Linked DNA regions of Homo sapiens. The protein of the gene in region 1 interacts with the protein of each later gene in a pairwise test. Each region holds a gene or a part of one and is shown in the gene's direction. Other genes may lie near its edges.

Evidence for each region. Proteins that work in one complex are often made in the same cells at the same time.
Region 2: the proteins of ATPAF2 (region 1) and FNTB interact in binary tests that used the Homo sapiens proteins (3 or more experiments, as listed by UniProt).
Region 3: the proteins of ATPAF2 (region 1) and UBAP2 interact in binary tests that used the Homo sapiens proteins (3 or more experiments, as listed by UniProt).
Region 4: the proteins of ATPAF2 (region 1) and VWC2 interact in binary tests that used the Homo sapiens proteins (3 or more experiments, as listed by UniProt).

The regions. Positions count from the first base shown.
Region 1 is NC_000017.11:18,019,813-18,022,350, reverse strand, and holds part of ATPAF2 (ATP synthase mitochondrial F1 complex assembly factor 2), read left to right. Parts: intron 1-493; coding exon 494-606; intron 607-687; exon of another isoform or gene 688-929; intron 930-1,112; coding exon 1,113-1,228; intron 1,229-1,352; coding exon of another isoform or gene 1,353-1,391; exon of another isoform or gene 1,392-1,711; intron 1,712-2,538. UniProt on the Homo sapiens protein: Plays a role in the assembly of the F1 component of the mitochondrial ATP synthase (ATPase).
Region 2 is NC_000014.9:65,028,395-65,032,091, forward strand, and holds part of FNTB (protein farnesyltransferase subunit beta), read left to right. Parts: intron 1-3,697. UniProt on the Homo sapiens protein: Essential subunit of the farnesyltransferase complex. Catalyzes the transfer of a farnesyl moiety from farnesyl diphosphate to a cysteine at the fourth position from the C-terminus of several proteins having the C-terminal sequence Cys-aliphatic-aliphatic-X.
Region 3 is NC_000009.12:34,038,691-34,042,387, reverse strand, and holds part of UBAP2 (ubiquitin-associated protein 2), read left to right. Parts: intron 1-3,697. UniProt on the Homo sapiens protein: Recruits the ubiquitination machinery to RNA polymerase II for polyubiquitination, removal and degradation, when the transcription-coupled nucleotide excision repair (TC-NER) machinery fails to resolve DNA damage. May promote the degradation of ANXA2.
Region 4 is NC_000007.14:49,776,638-49,780,334, forward strand, and holds part of VWC2 (brorin precursor), read left to right. Parts: intron 1-3,697. UniProt on the Homo sapiens protein: BMP antagonist which may play a role in neural development. Promotes cell adhesion.

The DNA.
Region 1 (2,538 bases):
AAGATCATGCCAGCGCACTCCAGCTTGAGTGACAGAGCGAGACCCTGTCTCAATAAAAAAGAAAACCTCCATGATATATGACATAAACATTATTTTAAGGAAAACCATTTTAAATATTGTTTTTAACTTTTATATGTCCTCAAATGTGAAAAACTTTAAAGAGATGTAAAAGGCAGATGGCCTTTTGATGGAGATTCCAGGTGAATGAATGAGCATTTCAGGCAGCTGCGTATAACCGAGCCCTAGCTCACATGACTCAGGAACCATCCCTTCATTCAGCACAGTTTCTTGGTCCTCCAAGTTTGCTTTTGAGGGACAGAAAATCAGGTCGGGAGGCCACTGACCATGGTGGCAGTTGCTCCTGTAGTCAAGACTAGCTCCTTGGCCAATGCACACACATGCTCTGAAGCTTAGGCCTTTGTTTCTAGTCAAAAGGTGGGCTGCTCTTGGGCTACAGCATGACAGAGACATGCCGAAGCCCTTTTCCTTTCAGATACGGCGTGGAGATCAGCTCCTCCACCAGCATAATGGGACCCAGCATCCCTGCCAAAACTCGGGAGGTGCTCGTCAGCCACCTGGCATCTTACAACACATGGGCTTTACAAGGCATGTATGGAGTTTCTTGTGGGCTTGGCAGGTGGCTGTGAAGGCCATCAGTGTCTGAAGCCTGTACTTGCCCCTCCCCAGGTCCTGTGAGTGGAGAGGCACAGAGTGTTCTGGGCTAGCTGAGTGTGGAGGCTGGGTGGCTCTGATGCTAGCCAATCACTCTACGCTCTAGGCTCACACCTTTCCACCTTCGACTTCGCCAGCAGAAGTCTTGAGTTCAATCTCATTGCCCTGGCTTGGGTCACATGTCCATCCATGAACCAATCACTAGACTGGGTGCGGAAAGCTCTGATTTGCCAAGTTCGGGTCATGTGTCTCACTAGGTAAGAGCAGAGGAGGATCACCCCCAGGGAAGACCAGAGTGCTCTTTCAGAAGAGTGGGACAATCGCTGGATGGCTCTTTGCACCACTCACTCCTGTTCTCTGCTAGGGCTGCTGGGACTCACAAGGGGTAGGTTGTGGCAGCTGCCCTGTTTTGGGTTCTGACTTGGCTTGTGTCCCTGCAGGGATTGAGTTTGTAGCTGCCCAGCTCAAGTCCATGGTGCTAACCTTGGGCCTGATTGACCTGCGCCTGACAGTGGAGCAGGCCGTGCTGCTGTCACGCCTGGAGGAGGAGTACCAGGTGAGGAGCAGCACCTCAGGTCCCGCCTCCCCCTTCCTAGTTCAGACTCACTTTGGGGGAGCAGCTAACCCATCTGAAATATAGTTATGCATACTTGGCTTTTATTACTTTTATGTACACGCAGAAATCAAAATCAAGGACCAGCAGAAGTATTGTCAAGTAGGCCTGGCATGGTGGTTCACACCTGTAATCCCAGCACTTTGGGTGGCTGAGGAGGATGGATCATTTGAGGTCAGGAGTTTGAGACCAGCCTGGGCAACATGGCAAAACCCTCTCTCTACAAAAATACAAAAATTAGCACCTGTAGTCTCAGCTACTTGGGAAGCTGACGTGGGAGGATTGCTTGAACCTGGGAGGTGGAGGTTGTAGTGAGCCAGGATTGTGCCACTGCATTCTAGCCTGGGTGACAGAGTGAGACCCTGTCTCAAAAAAAAAAAAAAAAAAGGTAAGATAATAACAATAAAAAAATAACAGTAAGTGCTACCGCTGTGTTCCTGCATTGTATCCATCTCACCTCCTCTCAGCAGCCTGGGCAGGTAGGAGCTGTGGTTATCTCTGTTTTACACAGAAGGAAATGGAGGTGCAAGGTTGCACCTCTGGAAAATGTGCCAGCTGGGGTTTGAAGCCAGGTCTGGTGATTTTAGGGCCAAGGCCGTCAGGCCTCACTCTGCACAAGGAGGTTCACGGGTGGATAAAGACCATCTGGGCTTGATAAAGCCTGCAGAACAGGCCCTGCCAAGATGACTGAGAACCCGTTTGTGCTCCTTCATCAGCTGAGCCTTCATACCCTGACATTTTATCTGGCTGGCAGAGGAGCATAGGGGTAGCTGCTGTTTGTATACAAGTTTTGATTTAGTGGGCTCAGAATTAAGGTTTTGCCACAGTATGGTTTGCATTTTTTAACTCTGAAAATTATAGCCATCTTTGCAGTCTTTTTATTGTTATTCCACCAACCTCAGAAGGTTAATTGCTATTATGAATTGGTCCCTAATATGGTAAAAACAAACAAACAAAAAAACACAAAACTTTTTGTGATGTATTTCCCTAGTTCTTGTAGTCTTCTGCTCAGAAAAATGCCAGGGAAAAAACTATTTTTGTATAACAAAGGAGGCCCGCTACTATTCTCTGGATGTCAGAACTGATTACATAGGAAGGGGGTGACTTGTAGGGCTGGTGGGAAGCCAGTCTGGGCTCTGCTTCTGACTATGGGACCCAAGCCAGGCCATCATTCTCTGAACTTTGGTTTCGATCCTCTACAAACAGAGGAATAACCTGAATTATGTATGTGATGGTATACAATGAAAGTATGG
Region 2 (3,697 bases), on another chromosome or scaffold:
TCATTGAATAAGCCATTTCTCTAAGACAGTGGCTTATTGAGATTTTATGCCATTTTCTTATTATTTAGTTGAGAAATACATTTTGTGAGGTTTCTATAGCAAAGCTGTCTTACTGCCTATGTGTAAATGGGTTTGCTTCTACACAAGTTGATTAATAGTCTGGCTTAAGCATCTGGTTTAACCATTGGTTTGAAAGTATAGGGGAGGAAAAAACCACGAACATTGTGGAGCATAAAATACATTACAGATAATAGGTAATCAGGCTGCAAAGGCCTTTAGTTCAAGATGTTCTTCTATCTCTAACTTGTCTAATCCAACCAAAAAAATTAGATTAGGATCTGTGTATACCAGTGAAACCAGTAGAACGACTGAGGTAAATCAGTATGTGTTGATTCTTCTTAAGGAAAATGTTAAAAGAGTTTTTTTCCCTCGTGTTCACTACATTTTCGTTCCTGTTCTGTTGCTATTCCCCCAAAATATGCACAGTCTTGAAACGCAGCTTTTAAAAACCTACTAAGATTATTAGGCAAAAGCAAACAAATCATAGCAAGATCCTTTTGGTATTTTATCATATACCTTTTGCAGCTGTGATTATTTGCTATCTTATTCATTCCAGCACTTTTTTTTTCCCTATGCTCTTTATTTATATGTTCTAGATAAATGCTAGGAAACTTCTCCAGTAAGGCAGCTTGGTTCCCCTGCCAAGCACTGTAGCCATATTCTTCCCTGACCTTTGCTCTTTGGGTGATGCTCTGCCATTCGTGCCCGTGCTTTCTATTTACATAAAGGATTAAAGATATGAATGATAGAGAAAAGCTAGCAGATTGCATCCATTTTCCTTGCTTTGCCTGGTTTCTAGTACCCCGATTCCATCATTTTTCACTTGGCATTTCTTTCATTGTCCTTTGCCTGGAAGCATCAGCCAGTCCTCAGGAGTGCTTGTTTGGGTGGATTTGACTTGGAGAAAAGCAGCAGTGATGGGAGAGTTTGACATCTGGAGACTAGCTCGCTGCCCTTCTGGGATAGACAGCAGTCTCTGGATGATCTTTCTGCTCTGTTACACTGCTGATAGTTTCAGAGATGAGCCTACTCAAGGGTCTGTAGTTCCAGTGTATTGTAAAAAATCAAATCACAGTGAACTCATAGCAAGCACTATTTTTTCTCAGTTCTTAAGAAAGGAGACCTCCTTTCTAGGTTATATAATCTAGATCATTCTGTGAGGATAAGGTGGAGGCAGGGATCTAGCATTTGCAGAAGTTTGGTGAGAAAGCATGTGTTGCTCAAGAAAGGACAAGTTCAGTGTTGAAGTGTAGATGGCCTGGTGGGCAGGGGAGCAGTGGAGCTGGAGGGACAGGCTGGGAACAGGCTACAGAGGCCCTGAAATCTCCTATGGAGTCTGGAGTTTAGTGATGTGATCTGATTTGTATTTTCTTAGAAGTTTCCCAATTGCAGTGATGGACTGTAGTGTTCCAATAAAAGCCCTCTGGTTTCAGGGCTGGAGGGAGAGAGAGCAGGAAGACTGATCCAGGTTGAAGAAGGCTTGGATTTGGGTGATGGCAGCAAGGATGGAAAGTTAGTGGACAAATTCAAATTTGAGAGCTGCGATGACTGGGTGGAGGGAAAGGGGGAGAAATACATGAAAAGGTTGTATTACGTTTCCTCCCCATCTCAGCGTGAGACCTGGGACTCCTGTCTTCTGTCATCACTTCTTAGTCCTCACACTTGTGAGAGGCAAACTGTATTATAGGTCGCCTCCTACCTCACAAGTCACAATAGGATTCAAGAGCAAATGCATCTGAGCCTCTTTAAGAGGCCTACAATTGCAAGGAAATTAGACAGATCTTCAAAATTAGCTGCTGGTAGATGATCACATTTGGCATTGGCACTTGTGACTCTTGTGTGCTCCCAATGCCTGCTGGTGGAACTAAACTTCCACTGTGCCTTTGGCTGCTAAAAATGCTGGTAGGATCATAATGCATGCAGCTTCTGCAGAGACTTCTTTGGAATACCTCAGTAAGTCTGACTTCATGTTATATCTATACTGAGTAAGATGGAAACCAGGGCCGAGCGGCAGTGGCTCATGTCTGTAATCTCAACACTTTGAGAGACTGAGATGAGAGAATCACTTGAGGCCAGGAGTTCAAGACCAACCTGGGTAACACAGCAAGACCCTGTCTCTACAAAAAATTTTTAAAAAATTAGCCAGGTGTGGTGGCATGCATCTGTAGCCTCAGCTGCTTAGGAGGCTGAGGCAAGATCAGTTTGAGCCCAGGAGTTTGAGGTTGCAGTGAGCCATGATAGCGCCACTGCACTGCAGCCTGGGCAACAAAGTGAGATCCTATCTTAAAAAAAAAAAAGAAGATGGAAACTAGGCCCTTCTTTTATGTTTCTTAGGAGCCCTTAGGAATATACTTTTTGTTTGTTTTGTTTTGAGATGGAGTTTCTTTCTGTTGCCCAGGCAGGAGCGCAGTGGTGGGATCTTGGCTCACTGCAACCTCTGTCTCTGGGGTTCAAACGATTCTCCTGCCTCGGTCTCCCAAGTAGCTGGGATTACAGGCGTGTGCCACCATGCCCAGCTAATTTTTGTATTTTTAGTAGAGACGAGGTCTCACCATGTTGGCCAGGCTAGTCTCGAACTCCTGACCTCAAATAATCCACCTGCCTTAGCCTCCCAAAGTGCTGGGATTACAGGCATGAGCTACCATGCCTGGCCAGGAGAAGGATTTTTGAGCAGAATTCAAACCAATGATTTTTGTCTTCCCTGTGCCGGGTATTTGAAAAAACCATAGAGGGGAAGGAAAGGCAGTCTGTGTGTGTATACCATGACAGAGGGAGAAGCTGAAATAAAATGTGCCCCGAGAAGAATTAGGGCTGGGAGGATGGAACAGCAAGAATGATCCTAAATCAAGTATAATAATTTTTTGTGTTTGTTTTTTTTTTTGAGACAGAGTCTCACTCTGTTGCCCAAGCTGGAATGCAGTGGCATGATCTTGGCTCACTGCAACCCCCGCCTCCCGGGTTCAAGTGGTTCTCCTGCCTCAGCCTCCCAAGTAGTTGGGACTACGGGCACACGCCACCATGCCCAGCTAATTTTTGTGTTTTTAGTGGAGACGGGGTTTCGCAATATTGGTCAGGTTGGTCTTGAACTCCTGGCCTCGTGATCCACCTGCCTCAGCCTCCCAAAGTGCTGGGATTACAGGCATGAGCAACTGTGCCCAGCCTAATAATGCTTTTTTAAAAAATAGCCCGGGCGCGGTGGCTTATGCCTGTAATCCCAGCACTTTGGGAGGCCAAGGCAGGTGGATTGCTTGAGGTCAGGAGTTTGAAACCAGCCTAGCCAACATGGCGAAACCCCATCTCCACTAAAAATAGAAAAATAAGCCAGGCATGGTGGCATGCGCCTGTAATCCCAGCTACTTGGGAGGCTGATACAGGAGAATTGCTTGAACCCAGGAGGCGGAGGTTGCAGTGAGCTGAGATCATACCACTGCACTCTAGCCTGGGCGACAGAGTGAGACCCTGTCTCAATAAAAACCAAAACAAAAGCAAAACAAAAAATATAGACGTGCGCCTTTTTCATTTAACGTGTGTGTGTGTGTGTGTGTGTGTGTGTGTGTGTGTGTGTACTGGTGAGAGGTTTGAAATCAAGGCTCTTTTCTCCCTCTAGAGGTTTAAGGACTGTATTGGAGTGGACTCA
Region 3 (3,697 bases), on another chromosome or scaffold:
TCCAGCCTCCATCTCCCGAGTAGCTCGGATTATAGGTGCCCGCCACCACGCCTGGCTAATTTTTTGTATTTTTGGTAGAGATGGGGTTTCACTGTGTTGGCCAGGCTGGTCTCAAACTCCTGACCTCATGATCCGCCCACCTGAGCTCCCAAAGTGCTGGGATTACAGGCATGAGCCACCACCCCAGCCTACTGTTACTTTTTTACAATAATTTTACCTTATATGTATATCCGTAAGCAACATATGGTTTAATAGTGCCCATTTTCAGTCTTATTCTCAATGTAAGAATTGTATGATTCTTCTGATGCTTGATTCTTTCACTCTTACATGCTTGAGATTTATCCATGTTGATTTCTTTTTTTTGAGATAGGGTCTCAGTCTGTTGCTCAGGCTGGAGTGCAGTGGCTCGATCCTGGCTCACTGCAACATTCACCTCCCGGGTTCAAGCGATTCTCCTTCCTCAGCCTCCCAAATAGCTGGGACTACAGGTGCCCGCCACCATGCCTGGCTAATTTTTGTATTTTTTGGTAGAGACGGGGTTTCCTTGTGTTAGCCAGGCTGGTCTCGAACTCCTGACCTCAGGTGATCTGCCTGCTTCGGCCTCCCAAAGTTCTGGTATTACAGGCATGAGCCACTGCACCCAGCCCCCATGTAGATTTCTTTTTTCTTTGTTTTGTTTTATAAGACGGAGTCTTGCTCTTTTGCCCAGGCTGGAATGCCAGTGGCACGATCTCGGCTTCTCAGCTCACTGCAGCCTCTGCCTCCTTGGTTCAAGCAATTCTCCTGCCTCGGCCTCCCGAGTAGCTGGGATTACAGACACCTGCCACCATGCTCAGCTAATTTTTGTATTCTTAGTAGAGACGGGGTTTCACCATGTTGGCCAGGCTGGTCATGGACTCTTGTTTGTTTTTTTTTTTTTTTTTGAGATGGAGTTTGCTCTTGTTGCCCAGGCTAGAGTGCAATGGTGCGATCTTGGCTCACTGCAACCTCTGCCTCCTGGGTTCAAGCAATTCTCCTGCCTCAGCCTCCCAAGTAGCTGGGATTACAGGCAGGCACCACCATGCCTGGCTAATTTTTTTTTTTTTTTTTGCATTTTTAGTAGAGCTGTGGGTTCACTATGTTGGGCAGGCTGGTCTCGAACTCCTGACCTCCAGCGATCTGCCCACCTCGGCCTCCCAAAGTGCCGGGATTACAGGTGTTAGCCATCGTGCCCGGCCCGTTGATTTCTTATAGTAGTATGAGGTTACATTGTAAGGATGTGCCATATGTTGTCTATTTCATTGTTGATGGATATTTGTCTCATTTCCAGTTTTTTGAGATTACCAATTTTACTTGTCCTCATGTGGACATTTGCCACCCTGCCCACAACAAACAAAGTCCATTTTCTCAAGACTACATAACTGAGAGTGGAATTTTTGGTTTGTATGTAGGGTATGTGTAACTTTTACTAAGTAATGCTAAAGTGTTTTCCACATGTTGCACAGTTGTTCTCAGGCTTGTCAGCTGAACCACAGAACACAGAAAGTTGAGTTACTATTTTCTCAAATCTGTCAAGGATGGTACATAATGAATTTCATTCTAGGTGTCTGGAAAAAGTTCAGCTTATACACAGAGTGGATGCCCTAAGAATTGGGAATTCATTCTCAAAGACTGAGTGGTTTAAGAGTTCTACATCCTTGCCAACATTTTATGTTGCCTTTTTAGTTTTAGCCAATTGTAGTGGGATGTTCTAGATATATCTTTCATGAACGCCACATAGCTGGATTTTGCTTTGTTAAGTTAGCAACTTGCTAACTTCTTTTTAATTAATTAGAGTGTATCGCTATGTTGGCTGGGCTGGTCGTGAACTCCTGGGCTCAAGTGATCTTCCCACCTCACCCGCACAAAGTGCTGGGATTGTAGGAGTGAGCCATCAGCTAACCTCTTTAACTAGAGCATGGAGACCATTCATATCTGTTGTAATTACAGATATTTTGGATATATGTCTGCCATTATATTTAGTCTTCTAGTTGGCTGGCCTGTGTGTTTGTTTTCTGTCCCTTTTTTTTTTTTTTTTTTTTTTTTGAGACAGAGTCTCATTCTGTCACCCAGGCTGGAGTGCAATGGCGTGGGCTCGGCTCACTGCAACCTCCGCCTCCCGAGTTTAAGGGATTCTTCTGCCCCAGCCTCCCTAGTAGCTGGGACTACAGGCACGTGCCACCACACCTGGCTAATTTTTTTTTTTTTTTGAGACGGAGTCTAGCCCTTGTCGCCCAGGCTAGTGTGCAATGGCGTGATCTTGGCTCAACGCAACCTCCGCCTCCTGGGTTCAAGTGATTCTCCTGCCTCAGCCTCCCAAGTAGCTGGGATTACAGGCATGTGCCACCATGCCCCCGGCTAATTTTGTACTTTTAGTAGAGTCGGGGTTTCTCCATGTTCATCAGGCTGGTCTTGAACTCCCGACCTCAGGTGATCGCCCGCCTCGGCCTCCCAAAGTGCTGGGATTACAGACGTGAGCCACCGTGTGCGGCTTGTATTTTTTTTTTTTTTTTTTTTTTTTTAGTATTTATTGATCATTCTTGGGTGTTTCTCGCAGAGGGGGATTTGGCAGGGTCATAGGACAATAGTGGAGGGAAGGTCAGCAGATAAACAAGTGAACAAGGGTCTCTGGTTTTCCTAGGCAGAGGTCCCTGCGGCCTTCTGCAGTGTTTGTGTCCCTGGGTACTTGAGATTAGGGAGTGGTGATGACTCTTAACTGCCTTCAAGCATCTGTTTAACAAAGCACATCTTGCACCGCCCTTTATCCATTTAACCCTGAGTGGACACAGCACATGTTTCAGAGAGCACGGGGTTGGGGGTAAGGTTATAGATTAACAGCATCCCAAGGCAGAAGAATTTTTCTTAGTACAGAACAAAATGGAGTCTCCTATGTCTACTTCTTTCTACACAAACACAGCAACAATCTGATTTCTCTATCTTTTCCCCACATTTCCCCCTTTTCTATTCGACAAAACCGCCATCGTCATCATGGCCCGTTCTCAATGAGCAGTTGGGTACACCTCCCAGATGAGGTGGCGGCCGGGCAGAGGGGCTCCTCACTTCCCAGAAGGGGTGGCCGGGCAGAGGCGCCCCCCCCACCTCTCGGACGGGGCGGCGGCCAGGCGGAGGCGCCCCCCAACTCCCCAACGGGGCGGCTGGCCGGGCGGGGGCTGCCCCCCACCTCCCTCCCGGAAGGGGCGGCTGGCTGGGCGGAGGCTGCCCCCCACCTCCCAGACGGGCCGGCTGCCGGGCGGAGACGCTCCTCACTTCCCAGACGGGGTGGCTGCCGGGCGGAGGGGCTCCTCACTTCCCAGACGGGGCGGCTGCTGGGCGGAGGGGCTCCTCACTTCTCAGACGGGTCGGCCGGGCAGAGACGCTCCTCAACTCCCAGACGGGGTCGCGGTCGGGCAGAGGCGCTCCTCACATCCCAGATGGGGTGGCGGGGCAGAGGCGCTCCCCACATCCCAGACGGGGTGGCGGGGCAGAGGCGCTCCCCACATCTCAGACGATGGGCGGCCGGGCAGAGACGCTCCTCACTTCCTAGACGGGATGGCGGCCAGGAAGAGGCGCTCCTCACTTCCCAGTCTGGGCAGCAGGGCAGAGGGGCTCCTCACATCCCAGACGATGGGCGGCCAGGCAGAGATGCTCCTCACTTCCCAGACGGGGTGGCGGCCGGGCA
Region 4 (3,697 bases), on another chromosome or scaffold:
GCTCACTGGGTGCCAAATCATAGTGGATGGTGAAACCAACAAGTGCAGTTAATGGTTAAAAATTGTTTTGTTTCAGATGAGTAGTAGTAATGTTAATAATACCGGCCATCTCTCTAATGCCTACTGTGCGTCAGGATCCCGCTGGTTTTCATGTACGTTAGTTAAATCTCATCCCATGCTAGGAGGTGGATTATTATCCATTGTCTCCATGTTATGGAGAAGAGGAAACAGACACAGAATATTTAAATAATGTGTTGAAGGCAGAACAGCTATTAAGAAACAGATTCATATGTCAAACTAAGCAGTTCTACTCCATAGCTTAGGTTTTTAACCCTTATACTCTACTTGAACCAAAAGCCCAGCTCCACTGGGGCTTTAGTTTGGGTGAAGGTGCTGCACAGCATGCATGCACAGGCTCTAGGTAAAATCTCTGCCAGTGGGCTAGGGGCCTGAGAGAGACCTGCACAGGTGTTCAGTTATTCCAAACACCTCAAGGTAGGTTCAACCTATGGCCTGCCTGGACTTAGCCCATTGACTTACCAGGCCATAGCTGTCCTTTTCCCACCTGCAGAGGGCGTTATGGAACGTGCAGCTACTAAAGCAAAGGTTTAGGGAGGAATTCTGCTGGAATACCCCTCCTGGAATTAGCCTGTGAGATCTGCTAATTCCCAGGATGTGAAGCCCATGTAATTACTGACTTGTGGCAATGAATTATCAAGTGTTATATAAGTACAAAGCCAGGAAGGACAGATCTATATATAGTGTACAAAGTATGGAAAGAGTGCTGGAATTTAGAGTCAGGAAACATGGTTATTCATTCTGGCTTTACCACTAACCAGCTGCAGGACTGGAACAAAAGACATATGCCCTCTGGGTTTCTTTTCTCTTATCTGTAAGATAAGGGGCCAGCTTTCCCTAGGCTCATGTAGCAAAATATAACTCCAGGCATACATTGCTTAAGTACTCACATTTGACTGCAGCCCTTTGGAGAAAGACAACTGGGATGAGCAACTCATATGAACCACGCCCAGGCCATGCAAAATTAACTAAATCAGAAACCCTGCCCTCAAAATGCTTCCTGCCTACGGGAGGGTCTGGTAGATATCTCTCCAGGTGTTTTGGGTGCAGAACAAAAGTTCACAGGCAAATGTGTCCAGGTAAAGGAACCTGTGGGTGCTAGAAGAGCTCAGAGGAGGGGCCTTCCATTTTGGCCTGGAGCAGGGTCATAGAACACTAGAACAATTCTCTTAAGTTTTGAATTGGTAACATCATCGGCTCTTCTAAAGTCAAAGATAAGCAGTTGGTTTTTAATTAATTCCTTTTGTTGTTTGCACTATTTATAGTTTCATAGTAATTTTCTGGAATTGTCCTTAGAAGTAAACTGAGGAATTAGTAGCACTTTGATCTAGTAAGCCCAAATACTTCAGTGTCCACTTACCTACCTGAGATCACAGGTAAAGGAAATAATTCAAACTTCTGTCTTAACAATTCATGCTAAATGCTAGCAGCCATGAAGCTGCTTTTGTCTATGGAGGAGAGGGATCTCTCATTTAATTTCCTCTTTGCTACCTGTTTGGTAGTCCATAGGTAGAATGTGTTTTCAAACTCTGAGGATGGGAGATGATATTGACAAAAGGGAAATTGGAAAGATTACAATCTTAGGAAGAATTAAAATACCAGTAAAGCTATTTTTGGAATATTAAGTGCATCTTCCATCTTCAAATGACGTTTCATTCTAAACTTTCATCATTTATTACCAGATGCTGGGATGCACACATGCTTGAACGTTGCAAAGTTGTTACATATTTTTAATTATATGCTTGTTCTTACAATATGTCAACTACATAAAGATTTTATAGTGTTAGAGCATGTTTGCTCATTTTTGTTAGTATCGGGAACATTTCTAGGCATTCTGCTAATTTATCGTGGCCTTGTGCAAGCCATTTATTGTCTCCATTTTTGTTTCCTTCAATGTACAAAAGAGAAAGCAATGCTTTTTTTGAAGAATGTTGAAAATATGAATGTAGAATGGTATAGGGTTAGTTGTGAGTCCACGGGCTTTGTGGGTTGCAGTAATGGAGATTTGTCATGATGCTGAGTACCAGGGCACAGAAATTGTTAACATGCCTGCTCTGGGTATTCTGGGTTTCAGAGAGAGATTGTAGTCTGTAATGTGCATAGCACAAAGTACATGGAAAATGAAAAAGGAAAGCATTCTGTCTGAAGTGCTTTGCACTTCTCTGAAGAAAATGTGATTCAAATGGAGATTGTGGTACAGTCGGGTCATGCCTGGAACACTGTTTACTTTAGCAAGGAAGGAAGTGAAAGTGAGATTATTTGGGCCTCAGTCCCTGCAAGATGCATAGATCCTTTAACAGTCTGTTCTCTGCTTCCAGAGAGGGAGAGAGAGAGAGAGAGAGAGACAGAGACAGAGAGAGAGGGGAAATTACTAGTTATTGATGGAGGCTTGACCCTCTTTGAGCAGTAGATTAACTCCAGAGCCTGGCTGTGCTTGTGATGTGCAGGGTATTTGGCTCCGGCAGGAGTGCGGTTTCTCCCTGTCTTCATAGGCTTCTCTTTCTTTGGGCATGTTTTGTTGCTGCTTTCTCTACTCAGTTTTCTGCATATTCTAAACTTGTTTTTTCCCTTCTTTCTGTACTCTTTTACCCCATTAAAACTTCCTCTCTTTACAGCCTGTTTGATCTCAGTTAGATACTTGTGAAAGATCTCACTGACTCCACAAAATACCATTAAGCTGCTAATAATAATGAGAGTAATGTGTTCATTCCTCCAGGGATGGTTGTAATTTAATTTGTACATCCAAATAAAAACATAGTTAATAGTAGAATTTTCTCCACTGCCTCTCAAATGATACCAAGTGTCTTTTTTTCTTTAACTTATACCAGCAGGCATCCAACTTTGAATAAGGAAACTTGTCTATTGGCTTATTTTTTTTTTTCAGTAAAGGAATGATATTTTTAACTGTTTTCTGCTTCCTACAGTACATTAGTCTGCTAGGGCTGCCAGAGCAAAGTAACACAGACTGGGTAATTTAAACAGAAATTTGTTGTCTTGGAATAAATCTGGAAATCCAAGATTTTCAGACTTCCACATTTCCAAGTAATCTGGAAGTCCAAGATCAAGGTGTCAGCAGGGCTGGTTTCTTCCGAGGCCTCTCTCCTTGGCTTGCAGATGTCCATCTTCTTCCTGTGTTTTCTCATGGTGTTCCCTCTGCATCTGTCTGTGTCCACATCTCCTCTTCTTATAAGGACACACTCATATTGGATTGGGGCCTGACTTCATTTTAACTTAATTACCTCGTTAAAGACCTGTCTCCAGACAGTCATATTCTTAGCTACTGGCGTGAGGACTTCAAAATTTGAATTGTAGAAGCACACAGGTTAGCCCAAAACATAGTGTCAATGACCAAAATTGACTTCCTAAAACAGACCTAACGAGGTAGTAACAGTGGGGTGTGTGAGGATGCATCAGCACACATGATGGGAAAACAGTGCTTATGACGAAGGCACGGAGTGAGTGGTGATGAAGTGTATGCCAATGAACATTAACTGAGGGGCTCAACTTGACCATTCTGATTCTGTGTCTATTGCATTCTGAGAGCTACTTTAGGAGTTCCTGTATTACTTATGTGAATGGATCCTTGTGTCACAGAAAACTAAAAGGTGACTAAGGGTAG